Regions from separate parts of the Homo sapiens genome. Here all the other regions are linked to region 1. The links come from fine-mapping of genetic effects on gene expression. A gene starts in region 1. Each other region holds a variant in brackets. All regions are shown on one strand. Distances are from middle to middle.

Region 1 (8,185 bases):
TGTTGAAAACTCCCTAGTGACCTCCGTTTTCCCCAGGATACAGTCAGAACTCTTTGTCAAGGTTTACCTGCCCTGTGTGATCCAGCCCTGCTCAGCCCTGACTATCTCTCCAGCTTCGTTTCTCCTCAGCCCCACCCCTTTCATCCTTCTTAGGAGCGACCTGAAGAACTTTCTTCTCTCCGTGCCTCATTCATATTGTTGGTTTTGTCTGGAATCCTTTTTCCAACCCCCTTGCCTCCCTAACTCATTTGTCAAGCCTTACTTTAAAAGACACTTCTTCCAGGAACCCTTCCTTCACTCCCCAAGTCCAGTTAGGCCCCTCGCATATACACCCCCCCTAGCTCCCTACACTTTCCCCAACATAGCTCTCTCACACTGTATTTAATCGTTCACTTAATTGTTCTTCTCCCCCAACAGACTGTAAGAGACAACAGCCGGTGTCAGGGCGGTGAGGTGGGGAAGCAGAAAACACGTCTGCTTGTTCACGAACGTTCTTCCAATGTCCAGCAAAAATTTGGTCCTTAATAAATCCGCTTATCATTCAACAAGCCAACAGATGGAACAATGTTTGCTTGCGCTACTGCAGATGCTAATTCAAACTTTGGGACCAGGCAAGGCATTTGGCTCTTCATTTTATGAAGATCAGAGAGAGGGAGCGCAGTACCCAGTTGACTGACCGAGAGAGAGCTCTGTGGTGGGGGAAGGCTGCTGTGTTGGGCCCTTGTGGGGAGTGTGCTTTCCATCTGATTGCCTTTCCGCATCTGCACAACTAACTTCCCCCATGGGTCACGAGTTTTTCCAAGACTGACAGGAACCTACCCTGAAAAGTAAAGGAAGTTCCCTGCGTGTTTCTTAATGACACCTTCAAAATATTTTCAACATTCCTCAGTTTAAAGGTCCCAGGACTGAAATTTTAGATGGTGTCGAATTCCCCCGTGGAGATGCTGCTGGGCCGGGCCAGACAGCTACCTCTCTCACACCCGCTTAATTAAGTTGGGATACGAAAAAGAGCAGTGGTGTTTGGGTCAGGCAGGCAGTAGTGCAATGTCTCCAAGTAGCTGAGTCAAGTTCAGCGGAATCCAGCTCCCTGGGGAGGCTGGAGGGTAGCTGGGTAGACTGGGTGAGTGTGGTGGATTGGAGTCTTGATCAGCAAACACTCCGGCCCTTCTTCCACCCCTCCGGCCCTTCTCCCTCCCCACTGCTGCTGAGGACTGGGTGTACTTCCGGCCTCACTGACTTTGAGCTTGGCCATGTGACCTGTGTTGGCCAATGGAATGTGAGCAGACAGGGTGTGCGCAGAGGCGTTAAATGCGCTTGCAAGGTTCTTCTCTCTTGTGCTCCTTTCATTCCTGAAGACAGGAGTATACACCAGGTCACCACTGTTCCTTCAGCCTCGTTCTCTGGATATACAGTTTGGATACATTTAGTTTGAGATGGCTACTATAGATCTAAGCAGAGATCCATGTGATTTGGAGTTCAGGGGGTCTGGGCTGGAAATACACATTGGAATCATCTGCAAATATGTGACATTTAAAGCCTTGAGACAGATGAGCTCACCAAGGTGTGAGTGTGGATGGAAAAAGAGTCCAGTCGAGTCTTGGTTTCCTTCAATATTTAGAGGTCAGAGAGATGAGAAGGAATCAGCAAGAAAACAGACACGGAAAAGCCAGAAAGGCAGGCAGACAGCCAGGCCAACCATGGGCCGTGGGAGCCCCATGGACAGAGGGCTCAGAGTTGGAGAGAGCTATCAAATGTGTCCGACACTGCTGATGGGCCCGTGAGATGAAGATGAAGCCCTGACCTGTGAGTTTAGTGACAGGGAAGTCGTAGGTATCCTTGATGAGAATATATTTTGTGGAGTCATAGGGGCAAAAACATCAACCAAGGGATTCGGGAGAGAATAAGAGGAGAGATATTTGCAAGTTAGACAATTCTTACTAAAGCTTGGTTCAGAAATGAAGGAGAGAAATGGGACTCTAGCCCAAGGGGGTGGTGGCATCCAGAGAGATTTTTTATGGGATAAAAAATAGTAAGTTTGAACGCTGACAGGAAGGATCAAAGAGAGAGAAGAAATTGATGATGCAATAGGGATGGGAGAGTGTTAACAGCCAGTTCACCCATTGTACCAAGAATAAGGTCAGGGATACAGCTTGCATGCAGGTAGGTGAGCAGATAGAGTGAGGGAAGCTTGTGGACATTCTCTTTCAGTTACATTGATTTTCTCAATGAAACGGGAACCCAGGTCGTCAGTAAGAGTAAGCAAGTGGCAGGTGAAGAAGAAAGTATGACAGAGTCATCTAGGAGAGTTGGAGAATGAATGGAGCAAGGCGTGCAGCTTAGATGCTGGCTAGCAGTGACTGTTCTGAGCACTTTGTACTGGCTTTTCTACTAAAGCCTCACAACAGCCTATGAAGTAAGCCCTATTATTTGCCCCATCTACAGATAAGAATTGAAGCACAAAGTGGTCAAGAAACTTGTCCATAGTCCCACAGCAGGAAAGCCAGGATTTGACTACCAGTGATCTGTTTCCAGGGCCCAAATGCTTAAGCACTAGGTTAGGCTGACCCAGTTAAACATGAAAGCTTGTCACAGAACTGAACTAAATAGAATAGAATAAAGGTTGAATTAATGTGTGTGGTGCAACCACTCTGTGTCAAGCTCTGCACTAGATTCCTCTGCAAAAACCCTTTGAGTTGTGGTTATTATCAACCCCATTTTACTGATGAGGACATTAAGGTCTGGAAAGATTCAGTTGCTTGTTCAAAAGTTGAAGAGCTAGCAAATGGAAGCCCACACCATGTATACAGCCCACACACCCTGATTCTAAAGCCCACACCCTGTGTACAATGCCAAAGAACCCTTAGGATATGTGAGTGGGTCGACCTAGCTTAAGTTGCTTCATTAAGCCAAATACATCAAAACCCTCCCTACATCAGGCTGAGATCACTTGCAAACTTTATCCTGAGCACCTGGAGAGCTTGCGACATGGTCCTTACAGCAGGAAGAATTTAAAAGAAGATAACTTTGGGGGAATGCTTGTTGTTTTTCTGACCATTTTTGGATGCTTGATCCGTTAGGTGAGGAAGAGGAGAGCTTAGAGTTGAAGTAGATGATGGGAGTTTCGACATTTTCTTCTAATTAAAACTGTAATCTTTTATAACAGAAGCAACCATTCTGGTTTTTCAAGCATTTCCAAAAACCATTTTCTCAAGAAAGAGTGCTCATAATGTATCATCTTCACTGAACAGCCACCCACTTCCTCAAATGCAAGGAAGCAGACAGTTAAAAAAGAAACACACACACACACACACAAAACCAAGAGGCAGCAGTTGTTTATCACGACCTCAACTCAGTAAGGCCTGAGATTCTTTCGAAAAGGAGCTTTGCTTCCCATGACGCAGAGGGAAGTGTCAACTGGGATATTTCTGGTAAAACTGAAAGCAAGAAAAGCAGGGTGCTAGCCCCTGTGGGACTGAGGGTGGAGGCTGGGGGAGTTTGGGTGCCATCCTCCAGTGACAGATGGATGGACCTTTCATCTAAGAGAAAGGAGGAGACACGTTGGCAAATCAGCCTCAAGCCTAAGATTGCTTGTGAAGCAATCATAAGGAGGAACAAAAACAGACACAAAAACAGAGGGAAAGAGTGAAAAGACAAGAAGGGCGCAAACTGTGACAGACTCACCGCTTCACTAACTACTCACTTAAACTGGAAGCAAAATGTCCCTAAAATTGCCAAGGAACTGGGATTTCAACCTGAAAGTGGAGGCTGCGAAAATAGGTATGGTTGGTGTCTTTTCGTTGCCTCTGTGATTCTTACGTATACTCGAGCACCATTTGCATGTTGGTCTGCAGGGAGCATAGTCTACTTAAAAATGGATCTCGCAGCAAATCTGAGTTTGAGGGACCATTTGCATTTAAGTTGGCATGCCAGGTCCAAGTTCTAAAATGCTGGGAGGGGGTTCTCTTTCATTTGGACAAAACAGTGGGATGGCACTCCTTGGTGTGCAGGATCTGGGGTACTTCGGATGATTTAAGGCTACAGACTACACACAAAACTGTGAGTTTTTAGCATATTCCATTTCCTTCCTGTTTGGAAACTCATCCATATTTTGAATGGTTCTGAACAGGAGCACAAAGACTAGAGTCTTTTGAAGTGCTCAATCTGTAAGTAAATTCAATGGGTGTTCTGTTTTGTGAGCCCAGGAGTCAAGGTGTATTAAAAGGTAGTAGCAAAAGGTAGACAACAAAAACAAGACAGGAACATAAAAACGTACTAAAGTATAATAAAGACCTTACTTAATAAAAATATAATTAAAGGAACAGAATGGGAGGGAATTCTTAGATGAGTTGGAAAAGAGATGTATTTTTTATTATTTTAAGGGAGACTGGCATATTTTCTGAGATAGTCTGGCCTTTAATCCATACCCTGTCCTTCTAATGATGATAGTGATACATTAAGTTTAATCTATATATTCGTTATGAAGTTCTTTACATAGATTTCTTCTATTGCTAAATTGGTCACAGTAATTCACATCAGAGCAATCGGGCTGAAAACTATTGCCTACATTTATGTATCTCACCCATACATGAGATAACTTCCTTGATATTAGATATAGATAAGTATTAAGGTGTTTCTAACAGCTTGGAGGAATTTTGCTTGGAAAAAGGTTTAGATTTGAACCTCTAATGGGGTTAAGTGTGCTACTAAAATAAGTGCTCCATTGAAAAGTCACAAGCGGAGCATTAATGATGTAGGTCTGAGAAAGGGTTTGAAAGAAAACAGAGTAATCAGAGAAGCCATTTATCTTGATAACTAGGGGAGATTAGCGTTCCCTAATCAAGCTGTGAATGATTGTATGCTGAGGTCAGTTCAGAGAAAAGGTAATGTTCATACCTCTTACAAAAGCAAGAGATTTTCCTCCTAACTATCATTGATACAAATGTACTTGGCTAATGCTCAATCTATGTCATACAAATTATATGGTTCTGTTCCTTTGAAAGTGTCCTGCTTCTACATAAATAAGGTCATTCTGCCTTCTCTCCACCTATGTTTGAACACAGGTTATTAGGGTCTTACTCTCCTTTGGTTTAAAAAACAAGAAAGTTGAGACAATTAATAGTTAAATGATTTTTTTCACAGATATAGGAAATTACCACACTAGAGCTCAAGACTGCATATACTCAGGTCTGGGATTTGATTGAGTGAATTTCATGATTTTTACCAATGTTTCTTAAAGCATGGTCCCATAGATAACCTATATCAGACTCACATCAAGTGCTGGCTAAAAATGCAGATTTCTGGGCACCATCCTTACAAAATCAGAATCTCTGGAGGAAGGCCCAGGATCCTGCATTTTGACAAGCACCCCCCACTTTCATCCTCACCTGAGGAAGAATTCCTGCTGTAGGTACTGTGGTCTATGTTCACTAGCCCCAGCAGACAGTTTTCACCCATTTAGTATAGGGCACAGTGCTTGTTCTTAACTGGGCACACAATAAATATTTGTTGGCTGAATGAATGCTTCAGCCAACAAAAACAAGCAGATGATGTTATTTAGTATTACTTAATGAAAAAATAATAATAAGGACATAATGAAATACAGAGGAGCCCTTGTCATTATCCATGCTATCTATAAGTTTGTCACCCTGAAGGACTGGACTACAGTAGGATGCATTTATAAGTGTCACATGAACTAGAATTCAGATCATAATCTGAGTCCTCTGATGGGGGAGAGCCCTTGACTCAGTCACAGGACTTCCAGTCCCCTCTCCAGCATCCTGTGTCCAGGTGTAACTGTAGGAACTGGCTTACCAATATATCAAAGAAACTTACCTCTATTGGGAAGACCTGTGGAACTGGGAGTTATGTCAGGAAAGCTGACAATCTGTGGTTTTAACGTTTTCTCAACCTAGATACCATTGACATTTGGGGTTGGATAGTTTTTTGTTGTGGGGCCTGTCCTGTGAATTATAGGATGTTTAGCAGAATCCTTGGCCTCTACCTTCTAGGTGATGGTAACACCCCCCTACCACTACCAGTTGTGACAAATAAAACTGTCTTTACATATAGCCAAGTGTTCCTTGGGGATGGGGGTGAGGGTAATATCTTCTCTAATTGAGAACTCCTGGAGTAGATGATCACCAAAAGGGTGGAATATAAGGTCATTTGGGACTAGAACCCAAATATTAACTCATGATTCACTCTGTAGCTCAATTTTTTGGAGGCTTTTATTGAGATCTGTCCTCAGGGAGCCAGGCCATAGCTTAGGAAGGACACTAGAATGGGCCCTTGGTGAAATAGCAAGACACTGACCCAGAATGTGACCCAGGAAAGGGGCCCTAGCTTTTTTTGATGAGCTATGCTTCCAGTTTCCCCAGAATCTTGTGAGCTGGAGTGAAAGTGAAAGTCTCTGAGAGCGAGGGGAGGGACTCTCCACTGTACTTCCATCTCAGAGCTGAAGAGGGTCTTGCTGGATGGCAGACTCACCTGAGTCCACTACCATGAGTCTGACAGATTTTCATGCAGTGATGAAGAAAAGTCACAGAACTTCCTGAATCTGACCTATTGATCCTGGCAGGAATAGGGGTTGGAAGAAAAAGGAAAATGCAGAACAAACAGTCTTGACTTGAGGTGGAGCCAAGAGCACACACTTCTTCCTGTGATCCTTTATCATTTTCAATTTTAGAATCATGACAGCCTTTCACTGCCTTCACGCAGTTACTCAAATATTTTGCCTTTTTAACTGAATTGTCATCACTGGAGGACAGGTCCAGACTTTCTGGACCTCCAGCCCCAGGTTACAGGGCTTTCTTGAAAGAGTTACATGGCTTCCCAATGACCAGGCCAGTCTACTTGAGCACATTTTGTACCTTATTTGAACACTGAAATGCTGGTTCCCCAGTTTCAGGAGAATCCTGAAACTATATAGCCCATGGTGAACTGATTTGTGTTTGTTTGATGTTCAGCTTTCTGAACATCAGAAAGTGGTGAGTGCTTTCTTTACAATTCATTACCAAACTTACTATATGCTAACCAGACCAGCCTGGGTTATGGACTGAATGTGGTCTGTTTGCTGTGCCCAAAGTATTTGCTTTCCATGAGTAGCCTCCGGTCCCTGATAGATAAAGGTCCCCGATAGATAAAGGTCCCCACACATGCAAGTAGAGTCACTGCTAAAAATACAAAAAATTAGCTGGGCATGGTGGCGGGCACCTGTAATCCCAGCTACTTGGGAGGCTGAGGCAGGATAATTGCTTGAATCCGGGAGGCGGAGGTTGTAGTGAGCCACGATCATGCCACTGCACTCCAGCTTGGGCGACAGAGCAAGACTCTGTCTCAAGAAAAAAAAAAAAAAAAGAATATGAACATGGCCTTCTGTAGACAGTGAACAGCTACACAAGGGAGCTGTTCCTTCCAGGGCCCACTCTATTTTTATGCAGAGGTTACATTGCCATTGGTTATTTAAGTAAAAATGTCTGTCCGTAATGTTGCTGTTGACTTAACATTTAGGCATAAATTAAATTCTCTCCACGAAGTGCATGCTTCCTGTTGCCCAGGCCAACAGCCTTCTGGCCATTTGAGGAAAAAGGACTGATGTCACCTCTGGGCCTTCTGCAGCAGCAGCAGAGTGGGGACCAACCTAAGTGGTGATGGGAAAACAGGACCTGGTTTTATATCCACTCATGCACAAAATTCCCCCTGTACATGCCAGATGAGGTCAGCTTAGATTCTGTACTTTGTCTGAGACTGTGCACTTGGATTGGCAGAGGCTAGCTTGATGGTTCTTATTGCCTATGTGTCTGAAACTAGGCCAGGGTTAAGATGCCCAATGGCCCTGGCGTGGGTATACATCACTATAAGTCACTTCATTAATGGTAGTGCTGCCATCTCCCTGTCTCTCACCTCACAGTTATGAAGCATCTTCATGTAGCATCCAATGGGAGAACTCTGTGGAGACTCCACCAGCTGGAATGTGATCCTTTTGAGTAAGGCCCACTATGGGGGTGTTGGAAAGATGCTGGGACCAATTGAGAGAAGTAAGTTGATGAAAATGGTCCTATCACACACAAGGCAGCTTGAGGAAAGAATCTGGCATGAAGGTGCACCCCAGTCGAGTGGTCTGAACTTGTGTTAAGATACAAGACATGGGAGGGAGTGAAGAGCAGAAGCAAAGTCCCACTGGTGG
Region 2 (8,185 bases), 31 kb after region 1:
GAAGGACATTCTGCAATATGCTATAGCACCGATGAATCTTGAGGACATTATGCTAAGTGAAATAAGCTGCTTCAAAAAAGACAAATGCTGTATAATTCCACTTATGTGAGGTGCTTAGAGGAGACAAATTCATAGAGACAGAAAGTAGAATGGTGGTTACCAGGGCTAGGGAAAGAAGGAAAAGGAAGTTAACTCTGTAATGGGTACAGAATTTCAGTTTTTCAAGATGAAAAGAGTTCTGAAAATGGATGGTGATGGTTGTGCAATAATGTGAATGTACTTAATACTACTGAACTGTACAATCAAAAATAAGATAGTAAATTTTATGTGTGTTTTACTGGAATAAAAATAATTGGGAAAAAATAAATCACGCAAGTTATAATTTGAGAAAAATAGCCCAAGTCAAATATTACAACTCATTTTTCATCTTCAAAAGCTCTCGTATGCTATTAGATGTGCTAAGCCAGAGGGATTTGGAATTAGGACCGCATCCTGGGGTCCCGGTGTTAGCCTGTTGAGTCACCCCCTCATGGTTCTCCTTCTTTTACCTCCTGTTTGTGCATCTCTGGTTCCTGCTTCTTCAGCCTTTGCACAAAAGCTTAGTTGGTCCTTCAGTGACTACTGGCTAAAAACAAACAGAAAAAGAAAAAAGAAACAAAAATGGTGTTCTTCTAGTTCTTCCATGAGAACTGTGAAGGAGTGGCCAGCCAAAAAGAAATGTCAAGCAGAGGCTAGTGTGTGGGCCAAGAAAGTCCAGGTCAGACAGAAACACTACAGTTGCTCACAGATACATACAAAATAAGTCCTGACATTTTTGTGAGGACCTTGGGTGATAAAAGGGAAACCCCCTAACACATTTTTCAGGCAGCTGATAATGTTTGACAGCTTTGAAGAGGAAACAGAACTACCAGATGTCAGTGGCTGAATCACAGGGAAAATACTGCATTCTGCAAAGCCTTACTCAAGCATCATGAAGTGTAGCCCAAAGTTGATAGAAATGCTGATAAATAATAAAATTTTATGAAAAAGTAAAATCTCGATACTTTTTCACAAGTCACTAGCTGTAACCAAGACAATGATGTTGGCTTTTTTGTATTTGATCATCTTTCATGAATTTTAGAATGCTTTCTTTATCAAACTCTAAAAAATCTTTAACAAAATTGCAAAGTGTCACAGCAGTGAAAATTTTCATAAACTTCACAGCTCTCAATTATATGACACAGTAGAAGTATCAGAAGTATTCTGCTGTGTCATTTTCTGTTTCTTTGAAGATTCTCTGCTGTACTTCATCATTTTTCCATATACAGTTAAAACACCAAGCAAATATTTGGCCTGAATCCTAAAAATGTTTAATTCTTCCAATTTTCTGTAGTTGCATTTTCAGCAATACAGAGCGTTCCTTCAATTCTTCCCTCCCCTTTTTTCGGTTTGAGATACACTTTAACACCTAAGAATGTGATCTTCTGTTCTTTATAACTAACATTTAATATAAACTAATGTTGAATTTATCAAAAGCAAGTTCATAATCTTTGAAAACATAAGACTTTTTAAATTATTGATGGGCTAAACCATTTACTAGTTTTTTAAATATTGAAGTATTCTTGCATTCCTGGAATATTCCAGACATTTGAGTGACAAAACAGTCAAAAATCTCTAACTCTGCAGAGTTTCTGGCATGTTTCACCACATAAAAAGTGTAGAAAATTATTCTCATTTTTTCTGCAGAAACTGTTCTACTCTTCACTGTTTCCATGGTGGGTTTTTTGTGTGTATGGCAGTTATATATATTATTTAGTTTCTAATCTTTCTTTTAAAAACTTTACTGAGGTATAATTTATATGCCATAAAATTCCTTCATTGTAAGTATACAATTCAATGATTTTTAGTAAATTTATAGGGTTGTGTGATGATTACCATAGTCCAGTTTTAGGACATTTTTATTACCCCAAAAAGTTCTCTCCAGCCGTTTTGCAATCAATCCCTGCTCTCACCCTCAGTCCTGGCAACCACTGTCTCTACAGAATTGCCTTTTCTGGATATTTCTTATGCACAGACTCATATAATTTGTTGTCTTTTGCATTCAGGTTCTTTCACTTAGCTGAATGTTTTTGAGGTTCTTTGTGTGGCATGAATCAGTCCTTTGCTCCTTGGTGTTGCCAAGTAGTATTGCGCTGTTTGGCTTTCCCACATTTTGTTTATCCAGTAACCTGTTTGTGGCTTCTGGATTGTTTTCAGTTTTGACCATCATCTATAATACTGCTAGAAACATTCACATTCAAAAACTGTTATGGACGTGTGCCTTCACATCCCCTGAATAGATTCCCAGGAGTGGAATTGCTGGGTGCTATGGCAAGCTTATGTGTAACTTTTTAAGACGCATCCAGTTAAGGGGTTAAGGGAGGGTAGCTACCCTCTCTGTTGAAGGAAAGTTCATTTTCTTCTTGTTTTTCTTCTTGTGTAGCTCCAGGTTAGGTGGACAGGCACCCTCTGTTCTCACTGGTATCGTGACCTGGTTGAGGAGCCAGCAGGACAGAGCTGTTACTTTTTGTCTGGCCTGACTTTGGGCACCCAGGGTAAACTGGAAATAACATGCCCCAGCCAGACCTCTGTGCGCACTTGGAAGGAGCTCTCAGGTCTCCATCTGTTCCCTGCCTCCATGCTGCTGCTGTTCCTCTCTAGGTGTTGTTAGTGCAGGATTTTCTTGGGCCCTTTCCGCTCCCTCTGGGGCAGGCTGTTCCATATGCATTGAGTTGTGAGACCAACAGCTTTCTTCAGTTTAGCCTTGCCTATCCTACATCTTGCAGAAATCCGTCTTCCCCCCAAATGGCATGCAGATAGAATCCTTCTTTACTTTTACTTTCATTTTAGATCTCCCCTTGTTATTATTGAGCTAGTCCCTTTGTCATTTTAATGGAAATTTGGAAATGGAAGCTCTTGCCATGAGGTCACCTAGAATTCTAGGTGGTCATTCCTTCCTGAGTTCCCTCACAGACCACCCTTGGGCTCCCTCCGGTTTCTGCTGCCCTTTCTCTCTCTCTGCCAGTAAGTGTTGGGGTAAAAGCTGACTTTACAGGAAATACTATCCATACTGGCAGCCTCAGTAAGTCCCTCAGTTCTTCCCATTCATCAGCTGATAAAGTGACAGTGCAGGGATATGGAGGCGGATCTGTCTGGGAGGGAATGTGTACGTAAGTGGTATAACATCTGTGTAGTGTCATTCCGCTGTGCTCTGAGGAGTAACAGGTCTGAAATGCAGACCTTGGAAAATAGACAAGTTGAAGTTTAGAGCAATAGTTGACATGTAAAAAAAAAAAAACCCAACAAGCCTATTGAATTTATTTTTAAGCCTAATAAAATATTTAAAAAGATCATTTATTATATCAACATTCCAAACACAACAGAGAAAATATAATGAACCCCCATGTAGACCCACTACTGAAGTTCAACAGAATATTTCGTCACATTGTTTTATCTATCCCTTTCTTTTTCTTTTATTCCCTTTTATGCTAAGATATTTTAAAACAAATCCCAGACACATTTTCCCCATGCTTAAGTATGCATCCTTAAAAATATGGAAATTTTATTTTCTAGCCACATTGTCCTGATCACGCCTAACAAAACTAATCAATAATTCATTGGTATCATCTATCCTTTATCCATGATCAAATTGTCTCAGTTTTTAATGAAATCTTTTTATCAGGTTGTAGAATAGGAGAAACATATTATGACTCGTTTCCTGGGCCCACCCCACTGCTAGCATTATTCATTGGTCACTTTAACTCTCAGTAGTGTTAAAGTTTAAAATCACTGTTCCCTAAGACCTGTAGAGGCCCCAGAAACTGACTGGAGTGACGTCTGTTAGGCTGTAATGGCTTGTAGCCTCCTCAAGGGCCAGTGCTTGATGGTAGTTGCCAGTACTTGAGCATTGCCCTGGAAGGGTCCTTCCTGTGAATTACTCAGGCCATATAATTCATCCATGCTTATGCAATACAAATATTTCAAGCATCCTAATGCACTTATTTATTTATGAATGCTAGTGACTAGTGAACCAAAACCTCTTACCTAAAATAAATGACTAGCTTTGGCAATGGAGGGGTCAGTACTTCGATTGCTCTTCCTAATGTAACACACCACTAGGGTGTTGGGCAGAGCTTACTGCACTAATTATCCTGCAGTCCTACCTGATGAGAATTGTTCTTCCTTACACTAACGCCTGGGAAAGCAGGTAGCTTGCATATGCAGTTAACCAGCTACATTGTCAAAGAATTTTCTACAGAGAAAATTTGCCCTCTGATTGCCA[A/G]ATCTCCACTTTGCCTTGTGCTGAGGAAGAGGCAGCTCTGGGGCAGTGTTCTTCCGCAAGCTTCTTGTTATTACACGTGGCTTCCTGTTATGCAGAGACAGGCGGAGAGGGCTGGGTAAGGTGTTGCAACTGATGGAGACACACAGACCCACAAGAGGCAACTGCACTCTAAATTCCTAAGAAACACGAAAGCCACAAAACATGAACACTGGAGGGGTGGCCCTGGAGAGGCACCCTAGGTGAAACAAATTTGCTGGCGTGCAAAAAAACCTTGCAATATTTGTTGCTGGCTCAGGTTTCCAGAGCTGCTGATAAGAAAGAAGTAACAGAAAGCCAGTACTCCTCTCTCTCTCCCCTTCTCTCTCTCTCTCTCTCTTGTTCTCACTCTCTGTCATTCTCTCTCCCTCTCTCTTGTTCTCACTCTCTGTCATTCTCTCTCCCTCTCTCTTTTTCTCTCTCTCACACACACAGATAATTTCTCTCCCTCTGTCTCATATTGCTACCAAGACAGCATTTTTTACCTCTTCCTGCAGAACACATAGTTATTGGTGCCAAGCCCCTTTCCAAAGCAGATTCTTTTCCTTTAGGTTGACATAGTCACTTGTCAAACAATAAAGGGCATTTCTAGAATCCATAGAACATGGGAAAATGAAATCTGCCCAATTCCGGAGTATTGAGGCAGGCATTTAGGGAACAACTTTTAGATATTTCTATGAATTCGGTTATACAAATTTGTCTCAAGGGTGAGTGCCCTGGGAAGACCCGTGTGGTTTAATTTCAGGGTACAGAGAGAAGGCTCCTTTGCTGTCATCAGTCTCACAGTAAAGATGCCTTTTGAAGGGGCAGTGCTTTTCATACTAAAGTTAAAAACGAAACTCAAAAGAATGATGGGTGCTTTTCAATGGGGGGGTGGCGTTTGCTTTGAAGACAGAAAAGGGATACAGAAAGCGAGCCTGAAGTTTCTGAAGTCACATGTCCTAATTTCCTTCTGGGTGGAAACTGAGGGCCATCATCCCGCAGTCTGATAACAGGATAGGTGGGGGGTCTGCATGTATGTATGTGTGAATGTGGCAGGGGCGTTGCGTGTGTGTATGTGTGCGGGGTGTGGGCAGGGACGTATGAATCTGTTTATCATTTTCAGGTGGTAGCAATGCCAGGTCTGCTGTTTCAGAGAGCTCCCCAGTCGGCTCCTTCCTCAGCTGTGGTGTGGGCCTGACTGCCGGCCCACGGTAGCTTAGCTCACTCTCTCTCCCTCCCATGCCTCGGCCACGTGGGACCTTGCTCAGAATCCCTAGGTCTCTCCACATGAGCTTGGGTAGCAGCTGGTAAGACGTGGCAGGATTACCTAATATGTCCGTTTTCTTGTTGGGGTATCAGCACAGCCTCAGTGGTGGGCTTGAGGTTTCAGTACCATTTCTCTGTCACTGTGTTTTCGAGGCCTGCTGAGCCTTGCAGAGCATACACTGGCGGAAATAGCACAAAATTGTTTGTGCACAATCTAGAGGCAAAATGGGTGGGGCTGAGGCAGCTGCTTCACATGATAGGTTAGGAGTAGTGGCTTTGTTCCCAGCTCAGTGAAAGGTGGCATGGTCTCTCCTGTCCACTTCACTCTGGATTCTTTAACCCTGTGAATTACTAGACATGGATTCCATCTCCAATGTGGATGCCTCTCTTCACCACAAGAATACATGCTCCTTTCTGGGCTGTGGCTTAGGTATGGATATTGGGCTTTGAAATCAGATTTCTAGTTGTTAACTGGAGCAGATCATTTCACCTCTGTGAGCTTTGGTTCCTGGTCTGAAAAATGAGGGTGACAGTATGGTACTTACATAAAGAGCATGAGCATTAAATGACACAGCTCTATAAAGTGCTTGCACTGTGGCTGGCTCGTGGTAAGTACTCAATACATAAGTAACTTGATATTCATTATTGTTAGATCAGGGATTATATCTTCCATCGTCCACTCTGCTCAAGTGGATGCAGTGAACATATCCAGAAATCCCGCCAATAGGTAAATTGGCCAATATTTCTCGCAAATACAAAATGCCTGCATGGTGGCTCACATTTCGTTCTAAAACATTTATTTTATTAACTCAGCAAATATTTATCAAGATGCTTCAATTGCCAGATGCTTTTCTAGGAAGTGTGGAGCTTTACTAAAAATCCCAAGGAAAACAGCACCCTTTTCTGTCTTGCATCTCAGTTTATCCCCACAGCCTCAAGTTAGAAATGCTTCCCTCTGTGCTGGTTTCCTCTATGCCATCTTTTCTTTGGTTCCTGAACGTCTATGCAAATAACTTTTCTGGTCTGAGATTTTCACGTCACTCAAATCTTCTGGCTTTCACTTGCACCTCTTTTCTCCCCCTAGTCTCTTTCTTAATTCATAAGCCTTACTTATCAAAAGCAAAACTCTCGGGAAGCTTGAAGCTCTCAGTCCACCCTCACACTTTATCATGTCCAGAACTGGACTCACCTGCCTGTTCAAACTGGCCTTGTTCTCTGATTTCCTTTCTTGCTTCCATGAATGGGTCTCCCAGATCCATCAGGGCTGTGTCTGGCTGATCTCATATCCTCAGGACCCAAAATTGTTCTGGTGCATGTCAAGTCCTCAATCTTGAATGAATGAATGAATGAATGGGGAAGGCTACCTTACCAGAGCCACTCAAACCCCAGACCTCACAAAAATCTTTGTCTCCTGCTCCTCCTTGTTCAGCAGGGGGCTGAGTCCTCTCAGTATTAGCCTCTCATATTGTTTCCTCTTCCATCCTAATCCAGGCTTCTGGCTTTGCACCTGGAATATTGTGCAATGTCCAGCCAATCTCCCTCTATACCATCTCTCTCCCTCTTTTCATCCCTCCCCTCTGTAATATTCTCTTTCTTTTCTCTCATTTAGAATAAAATTGAGTCCATACTATAATAATAATGTTAATAATAATAGCTTTCATTTAATTTCTATGTTTTAAGAAGCAGGCACTGGCTGGGACCTGTCCACTTACCCTTACTAATCCCTATGGATTTATCACCCCATAAGATGCATGTTATTATCACAGCTTTACAGAGGAGGAAACTGGCCCTCAGAGATAGAATACGGCTTACCCAAGGCTGCGTATGTAGAAGCCTGTGCACTTCTGCTACTTTCTCCTTCCTTCTCTCTGTTAGGCACTGTGTTAGGTGCACGATACAAGGATGAGCAAGGCCAAACATCAAGGGAGTACCCCTGTCTTCTTAGAGTGCAAGTGGAGAGGGAAGACAGGAAAAGAAAAAAGTACCAAGCAAGGCGACAAAGGCTACGATACACAGGTGTCTCCACTGACAAGGGTCCAGAGCCAGGGAGCAACTAAGTCTGGCAGGGCCAGGAAGGCTTCTCACAGGAAGTGGGGCCTGAAGGGATTCTTGAAGGATAAGTAAGAGTTTTCCAAGAGGTCAAATTGGATGTAGGTGGGGGTGGGTAGGGAGGACATTCCAGCAGAGAGAATAGCATACTGTCCTGGATAAAGAGCAGGATGGGCATGGAGAAAGAGCAGGAAATGCAGCAGAAAAAGCCGCAAAGGACTCCAACTCCATGGCAGTTTAGACTTCATCGTTTAGGAGGGAGATGCTGGGGGTCATCAGAGGCTTTTAGGCAGGAAGGTAACATGATCAGAATTCTGTTTGAGAAGGCTCACGTCATAAGCAATGCTGTCAGTGCTGAATATAAGGAACAGGCAGCCTTCTGTGTTGATTGGTTGGCTGGGAGAATGTCACTCAAGTACATCAGAGAGACCAGCGGAGGTAAAGCAGGTTTGGGCATGTGTGTCAGTGTTAGCCAGAGGAATGGTAGAGGTGAGAAGGGGAAAGGTGGTAAGTTTGATGAGGTGGTAAGCATGATGAGCTTGACATTCTCAT
Region 3 (8,185 bases), 81 kb after region 1:
TTCTTAGCTCCCAGGCTGTACAAATAGAGGCAGTGGGACAGATTTGGCTCCTGGCCCGTGGCTTGCCAAGCCCTCCTGTAAATGGAGAAGCTGAACTGAACAGCCGTGCCTCTTTCAGTCAATCAGGCCCACGGGGAGGCGTCCTCTCCTCATGCTCCAGGCTGACACACATGCTGCCTGCCTCATGCCCTAACTCCTCACCGCCTTTCAGAGTTCATCTGAGGTACTCTTTCATCTGACAAGTCACCTATGTGTTCCCATCTCTGCCTTGGGTGTTCTTTTTCCATACTTCCATAGGATCCTGGGTCCTGGGCTTCCCATATCATGGCATTAGCCGCACAGTATTGTAAGGACATTTTAATACTTGAGTCCCCAGAGTTCTGTGGCTCGATGGGGCCAGGGCTCCATCCCTGGATTGGATGGCTACTGATGTCCCTTGGATTGGCTACTGAAATCCCAGTGCTTGACAAGTATCTTGCAGTATCTTGCACCTAATAGGTTTTCTTGATGCTTATTGATTGAGTGAATTATTGAGTAAATACGTGAGTGAACCTCAGAACTATTTTAAGCACTCTGGAAGATTAAAGAGAAGAATGGACCAAGGATATAAAGGAGTTAACACAAGCAATATTAGAGACTAATTAGACAATGCTAATTGTGAGGCACTAAATGACTTGAAGAAAGAAGAAAGCAATAAAGACGAAAATCATTAAGGAACGTTTAGTAAAAATGTAGACCTTGAACTTACCTTTGAGGTAGTTGGGTGGAAGAGACAGAGGAACATTTATTCAAGAATGTTGTTCCAGAAGGGCGAATTAACAAAAATGTTTTGGTCTGATTCTTCTTTATCAGACTACTCCTCTGCAAAATTTCCCTTTGTAATTTATGGTTCTATTCACTGAATCATCAGAATGGAAGAGAGGAACATCCTAAAGTTTTTCTTTCAAAGAGTTTCACAGAGCGTTGCTTATTTTCTTCCAGAGACACAGATGTGCACACTGTGGCTTCCCTGTTAAAGCTCTACCTCCGAGACCTCCCAGAGCCCGTGGTTCCCTGGAGCCAGTACGAAGGGTTCCTGCTCTGTGGGCAGCTCACGAATGCGGATGAGGCAAAGGTTTGCATCTTAGAGTTAGTTGTCCTGCCTTAGAAGAAAGTGATTGGTTTTCTGGACACTAATCCAGTAGGCAACAGTGGGTCAAGGGGCCTGTACTTTTTGGTAAGATAGTCAAATGCAACTTCCTCAGCAACAAAAGGTATATGAACTCAATCATAATGACTGGCAAACCACAGCCTTCATGAGATGCAATAATCCAATAAAGAATTGGACCATAATCAAATACTGCTAGATCACATTAAAAGTAGTGAGAAAAGGAGGATACATCGGAGGACGGTTTCAAGCATGATGGCCTTGCTGAGACTTGCTGGGACACAAGGACAGGCTGGAAGGCAGGTGTGAGGTCACATAGCTCAAGCTCTACAGCAGCTGTGAGTGTCAGGCGTGGTCATCCAAGGAATGCATGTGCCAGGGAGAAGAAGGACAGGGAGGGTTTTTTGATTGTTTTTCTTTTCAGCCACAGCTGCCTGTAGGGTCTGTAACCACCATCTGCAATATGCTTGTGAGAGTGCACAAGTTCACTAACAAGATTTTTGATCCTGTATAAATTTATTTCTAGAGAGGCCTTATAGTCAACAATGACCACACTGTAGTCATGTTATTATAATCAACCAACCAACCAAACAACCAAAGAAACTGATGAAACCCAACCAACAACAATAAACCTTGATGATTTTTAAACAAGATTTTCAAATCCAAGTGATCCATGAAGAAGTTGATGTTTATATCGACTATGTTAAAAGCCCTCTCTGGCAAAATGGTGCACAGAAAAATCTATAATGAGACCTAGATTTAACCTTGATTTTGCCATTAGACAAATTATGCATCTTTTATAAGACTCAGTTTATTTACTTAGACCAATAGAACTTTCTATGGTAATGGAACTTTTATATATCTGCACCGTTCAATATGGTGACCACCAGCCACACATGGCTATTGGGCATCTAAAATGTGGCTAGTGCACCTGGGAAGCCAAATTCCTAATTTTATTTAATTTTGATTTAGTTAAATTTAAGTAGTTACATGTGGCAAGTAACTGCTATATTAGACACCACAAACTTAGATAATTTTCATAGTAATATCAGCCATGCCTAGGATTGTTTTGAGGACCCAGGGATATGATACTGGTGGGTGACTTTAAAATTTTTTTCAATATAAGGGAAGGTTTATTATCTTCCACACTTCAAAATTTATTAGATAGTCTGCTTCATAGAATATATTTATTTAAAACGAATGAAGAAATAGCACCCTAGCCCTGCAAGAAAACACAGCTGTGAGAACTTCCATCCCTGACTAAGGGTGGGGAGAGCATCATGATTTGAATAGATCCTGACATAAGAGAAAAGCTGACTTTATATTTCAAAATTAAGAAAGGAAGAGAACATGATACAGGTTTTGTAGCTCTTTTCCAAACAAAAATTAGATTGCATGGATCTGAGGTACGATATTTTGTGCGTAACTTAAGAATTTTATTGGGGGAGGGAGAAAGGGATATGAAAAGTCTTAACTTATACTGGTATATCTGCTCACCATTGTGAAAGTAATAAAATTTTATGGAATAAGGTTTAAAAGGCAGCTAAAAAGATAAACGTTTCAGATCGCATCTCACCCCTGGGTTCTGGGGAAAGTAAAGGAGGCAGCTAGATGCTGTTCTGACAATAAGATTCCCACCCCTGCACTCACTTTAGACTTGCTTCTCCCAGCTTTCTTAATCTCAGCATCTTTGAGAGTTTCCACATCTGTGGCAATGCATGTCTACACACAGGGACCAAGGTCCTTCTCACTGGTGAAAACATGGCAGAGGTGGCAGCTAGGAGGGGTGAGTCTGTAGCAACCTTTGCAATGAATTTACTCGACTCAACTGAAGAAGGGATCTCAGCATGAAGCTGATGCTACGCTAAGAAGGTCTATATCTACGGAAGCTGCTGCGTGTAGGCTGACAAGGCTGGAGGGTGCGTTTTCTGCAGGAGAGCTGCTCAGGTTTGAGGAGTGCCTGCACACCGGCATGTGAATTGTGTACTCTCTTTTTTTTTTTTTTTTTTTTTTTTTGAGATGGAGTTTGGCTCTTTCGCCCAGGCTGGAGTGCAGTGGCGCGATCTCAGCTCACTGCAATCTCCGCCTTCCGGTTTCAAGCGATTCTTCTGCCTCAGCCTCCCGAGTAGCTGGGGTTACAGCCGTCCGCCACCACGCCCGGCTAGTGAATTGTGTACTCTCACAAGCACCATGTTGCAGATGGTGATTACAGACCCTACAGGCAGCTGTGGTTGAAAAGAACACGGAAAAGCTCGCTGTCCCTCTTCTCTCCAGCACATGCATTCCTAGTAGACCTTGCCTGACATCCACGGCCATCCATTGCAGAGCTTGAACAGTCTGACCTTGCACCGTCCTCCAGCGTGGTCTGCCTGTCTCTGTGTCCCGGCATGTCTCAGATAGGCCACAGTGCTTGAAATCCTTCTCAGAAGAATCCTCCTTTTCTCACCAGTCTTAAAGTGATTCTGAGATATCTTATTGTGGTCTTATTCTTTATTGGATTGTTACCTCTCAAGCATTCATTCAGCAAACAATTAACGTATGAGTTGTTAAACAGTCCTTCCTTAGAGTAGCTCAGGGTCAAGGGTGGGGTGCAGTGGCATAATTACATATAAATAAAAGTATACATAACAAAAACTATGACCCTTTTAAAAAAAATTCTGTGAGAATTGAGTTATTTCC[CT/C]TTTTTTTTTTAAACCCACAGAACTACAGGAACAGGAATGACTGCCAAAGTGTTGTTTCTGCACAGATACACCAATTCTGTCCCAGGGTCTCCTTGCTGGCACATGGGCAGGCTCATTTACTGGTAAATGATTTACTTGTGTAAATCTCTTCCCAGGCTCAGCAGGAGTTGATGAAGCAGCTCTCCATCCTTCCTCGTGACAACTATAGTCTCCTGAGCTACATCTGCAGGTGAGAGGCCCCTGGTATCAACTCTGCAGTTTTCAACCCCATCAGAAAGAAGCTCCTAGTTAGAAGAGGAGGGACCACGTCTGTGAACAGAGAGATTCTGGTCTAGCACTTTGGAAGATCAGCTGTATTCACATAGCACTGAAGTAGCTTCCTGTATAATTTCAAGGATTCTGAAAACCTGGTTGAACCAAAAAATGAACGTGCTCCCCCATTTAGGCCTGCCTCAGCACTGCCCAGAGTCCTGGTACATGCAAGAGAACCCAGAATCCTTATAATGTTTCTAGAATGATCTCCCATCTTTGTGATTCTGAGCCGTAGCTTAGCTCCAGGGAGACATTCATTCTGGGCCACCCTGGTTATTTTCCTTCAGCCCTTTCTGGGGACCTGCTGTGCGCCACCCCTGTGGCAACTCTAGCTGTGGATTGACCCAGATCTGGCTCGGCTGGGAACTGGGATCTTCATCCCAGACTGACCTGAATTTTGTCTTTTATTTTTTAAAAATAATTTGTTGTAGTTCCTAGATTATAAAAGTCATGCTTGCTTGACTTGGAAACCAGGAAGATATAGCAAACAGTAAATGAGAAATAAAAAGGACCCACAATCCCTTCACCAGCAACAAGCACTATTAACACTTTGGCATTTTTCCTTCTGGGTGTTTTCTCTCTGTGATAAATCTTTACATACCTTAATGTAAATATAGGGGAATAATATTTTATACTAAATCAAAATTATATAAAGGATTGTGTCCTTTTTTTTGGTTTAATGTTTTATTATGAGCATTTCCCTATGTCATAAAATTGGATTATAAATAACTTCATAATATTTCATAATGTTTCATCATTTGGACACGTCACCAATATTTAATAATTGCTCTGTATTTGAAATTGTGTTGCTTCATTCTATCCATTTTTAAATGGTTCTTTGAGAGAGTATTTAGAAATTCCCTGTTTTTACAGTGAATCTGAGAGCTTTGTGCCTCAAAGGGGTAGAATTTTAACAAAAATTCAGTATTAGTTATGGAGAACCTGCTGAGAATTAGCAATGCTTGTGCTCTAATCAGAGGATGAGAGCAAGGAGGCACCATGGATTCCCCAGGCCTGAGATCTTCTTACCAATAAAGTTTTCCTCTCTGGAGACTTGGGTGGGATGAGTGCTGAGAGCTGGGAGATAAGCCTATCAAGGCAGACATGGGTATGGGCAGATACCCATTTTACCTTTTCTAGTCCAGTCTGAGCTCCTGGAAGTGGATCTTGCCTCCTGCTTATGTGATTCCATTCACCTCCCCATCCCCCACCCCAGCAGCTGGGCAGGACCCTCCTGATTTCTCTTCCTTCCTTGGTCTTGGGTCTTTCAGGATGAGGCTAAATTCTTGTGGGCAGAGCAGGCTGGTCTCATTCCTGAGTCTGGGAGGAAAGCATTGGATCCATCCCTGAGTTCTCATTGGAACCCTGTAGTGCTTCCTCCTGGCTACTTCCTGCTTTCTACCATGGGATTTCTTGGCTGTCTGTAGGTTCCTACATGAAATACAGCTGAACTGTGCTGTTAACAAGATGAGTGTGGACAACCTGGCTACTGTGATTGGTGTGAATCTCATCAGGTCGAAGGTCGAAGACCCTGCCGTGATCATGAGAGGTATGGCTGGTCCCGTAGTGAAAGCAGGTACCCAGGAAATAACAATTACAACATTCCCCCTGATATTTGTGCACTGCTCTGTAGTTTCCCAAGCATTTTAAGCTGGTTATCAATCTCATCTGAATCATGCAATAGCCTTGTGAGGTAGGCAGGGCAGGAATTGTGTCCATTTTTCAGATCACAACAAAGGACAGAGGTCAAGGGTTTGCCCAATGGTCCCACAGTGCAGTAGACTAGTACAATAATAGCTAGCTAGTGTTTGTCAGTCTTTTATTACTTTTAAATACCCTTAGCCAGATTGAGCAAGCAGGTTTCATTTTATTTTATTTTATTTTTATTTAGGTATTTATTGAGTTGGAGCCTCACTCTGTTGCCTAGGCTGGAGTGCAGTGGTGCAAACTTAGCTCACTGTAATCTCTGCCTCCAGGGTTCAAGTGATTCTCCTGCCTCAGCCTCCCAAGTAGCTGGGACTACAGGCATAAACCCCCACACCCAGATAATTTTTGTAATTTTAGTAGAGACAGGGTTTTACCATGTTGGCCAGGCTGGTCTCGAACTCCTGACCTCAAGTGATCTTCCCACCTCGGCCTCCCAAAGTGCTGGGATTACAGGCGTGAGCCGCTGTGCCCAGCCAGCTTTCATTTTACAAGCCAGCCCACAAAAAGGCTGCTTAAAAAGCTGTGCTGTGCAGGCTTCTGAGGCTGTGTCCTGACACAGAGTACTGATATCTGCCATGGGCATGGGGGCAGAAAGCCTGGCACATATTTGCTCTGTGTCTGATAAGAAACCAGATATCATATTGAGGACCACATCAGGAGAGAAAGATATCTTCATTTTCTCTGCTGTTTTATTGCCTACTTTCCTGATCAAAAACTAATCCAGTGGACTATTGGCTCCCTCTGAAACAGCTCCCTCTTTTATTCTACTCCCGTGTCCTTCTGTTCCATCCCTTTCAACATAATCTCCAACTCCAAGCAATTAAAAAGGGTCTTTTGAGAAGCAAAATGAGGCCCTTCTGGGCCCTATAGTTTTAGAACCGAGTTTGGAGACATCCACGGGTGGGGATCCTTGAGGACTGACTACCTGCCTCCTACACTACACAACAGATCTTTTTCTTCTGTCTTTCAGGGACTCCTCAGATCCAAAGAGTGATGACTATGATGATCAGAGACCATGAAGTCCTCTTCCCCAAGTCCAAGGATATACCCCTGTCACCCCCTGCCCAGAAAAATGACCCCAAGAAAGCTCCAGTGGCCCGAAGCTCTGTAGGCTGGGATGCCACTGAAGACCTCCGAATTTCTAGGACAGACAGCTTCAGTAGCATGGTAAGGTGCAGAGAACCTTCCTGCTTCCATTGGGTTCTTCCTTTAGTCCAGGCCATCCCATGTAAGGCCTGCTCTCGGGTGGCAATTTGGGGAGTTTTAGGTGATGCAGTGGCAGTGGGCGCTGCTGCTACAGACTCATCTGAACACACCTTGAAAGCCTGGCCTCTTTCCAAATCTAGTTTCTATTGGCATCTTTGAGGGGGGTGAGTGACAAGTGTGCCAATCACCCAGTGACTGAGCAATGAGGTCCTCACTGAAGCCCACTCTGAAAGAGAGACTCAAATACAGTCCAGAGAAGTTCAGTGGGAAAAATGTATACAACATTGTAAATGTTTTGGTCAGAATTGTTGAAAATTCTGGGTGAACGTCCAGAGAAAACTGGTTTCCTGCTAACCCATGAAACGTGATTCCTTTCTCAGAGTATGTGATGTGTTTGTGTAATATTTCTCATTCCTCGATAAGCCGTCTCAGCCATGTCAGCCCCCACATTTGTGCTGAAGGGTTGAAACTCACGTTCCCAATGTCCAAAAGCTCTGCTGACTCTGAAATGTAGACCTCGTGAGGACAATAATTTACAAAGGTCAAATATTTTTATATATTTATAGGAACAAATATTTTTACAAAGAACATGTGAACTTTATATAGTAGCTTGATCTTTATGTGTGGCCAAAAAATGGATTTCAAATTTCTAGTTGACCAGATGATTCAAGTTACCTACAGTACTGTTAGCCCTGAAGATTGTTTTTAAAAGGCAGGTAGTGGGTAGTGGTTGTAGTTTTTCTTAGGATAGGTCTTTCTGAAGGCAATGCATTCTACTAACACTCTAAAACTAAAATAAAATTTAAAAATGCTCATACTTCATGTAACAAGATCATCCCACAGTCCTTGAGAATAGCTATTATTTTACTCATTTAATAGGTTTCTGCCATTTACTGATTTCTGTGGGCAGGCACTATGCTGGGAAATTTACACTGATCACCTCTAGAGTCCTCATATTACATAACATTGTAGGGCAGAATTTATCATTCGTATTGTGTTATTGAGGAGCAGAAACTCAGAGAGGTTGAGCAGCTGGCCCAATGTAGTAGCACTAGCTTGTTATAGAGGAGGACTCAGATCCAGTCCTCCCTTCAGAACCCAGGTACCTCTAACTCCGGGTGGGGTTTCTGAA

The links. PIP is the estimated chance that this variant, and not a neighbour inherited with it, causes the effect.
Region 2: its variant is fine-mapped to the expression of ARHGAP25 in whole blood (TOPMed, PIP above 0.99).
Region 3: its variant is fine-mapped to the expression of ARHGAP25 in whole blood (TOPMed, PIP 0.94).

Annotation. Positions count from the first base shown.
Region 1 is chr2:68,731,484-68,739,668 of GRCh38, forward strand. ARHGAP25 (Rho GTPase activating protein 25) reads left to right here and starts at 3,328. Exons shown (of 11, transcript NM_001007231.3): 1 at 3,328-3,777. The coding sequence starts at 3,717. RefSeq lists an enhancer at 8,093-8,185.
Region 2 is chr2:68,762,058-68,770,242 of GRCh38, forward strand. The region is part of intron 1 of ARHGAP25 (Rho GTPase activating protein 25); the gene reads left to right. It overlaps LOC105374790 (a long non-coding RNA gene), which reads right to left and starts at 613. Exons shown (of 3, transcript XR_940225.3): 1 at 549-613. The variant A/G (reference allele first, on the strand shown) is at 4,301.
Region 3 is chr2:68,812,306-68,820,490 of GRCh38, forward strand. ARHGAP25 (Rho GTPase activating protein 25) reads left to right here. Exons shown (of 11, transcript NM_001007231.3): 6 at 982-1,114; 7 at 3,984-4,057; 8 at 5,568-5,689; 9 at 6,818-7,014. Among named protein-coding and RNA genes, the nearest start is that of LINC01888, 16 kb to the right of the region's middle. RefSeq lists an enhancer at 3,232-3,732. The variant CT/C (reference allele first, on the strand shown) is at 3,827.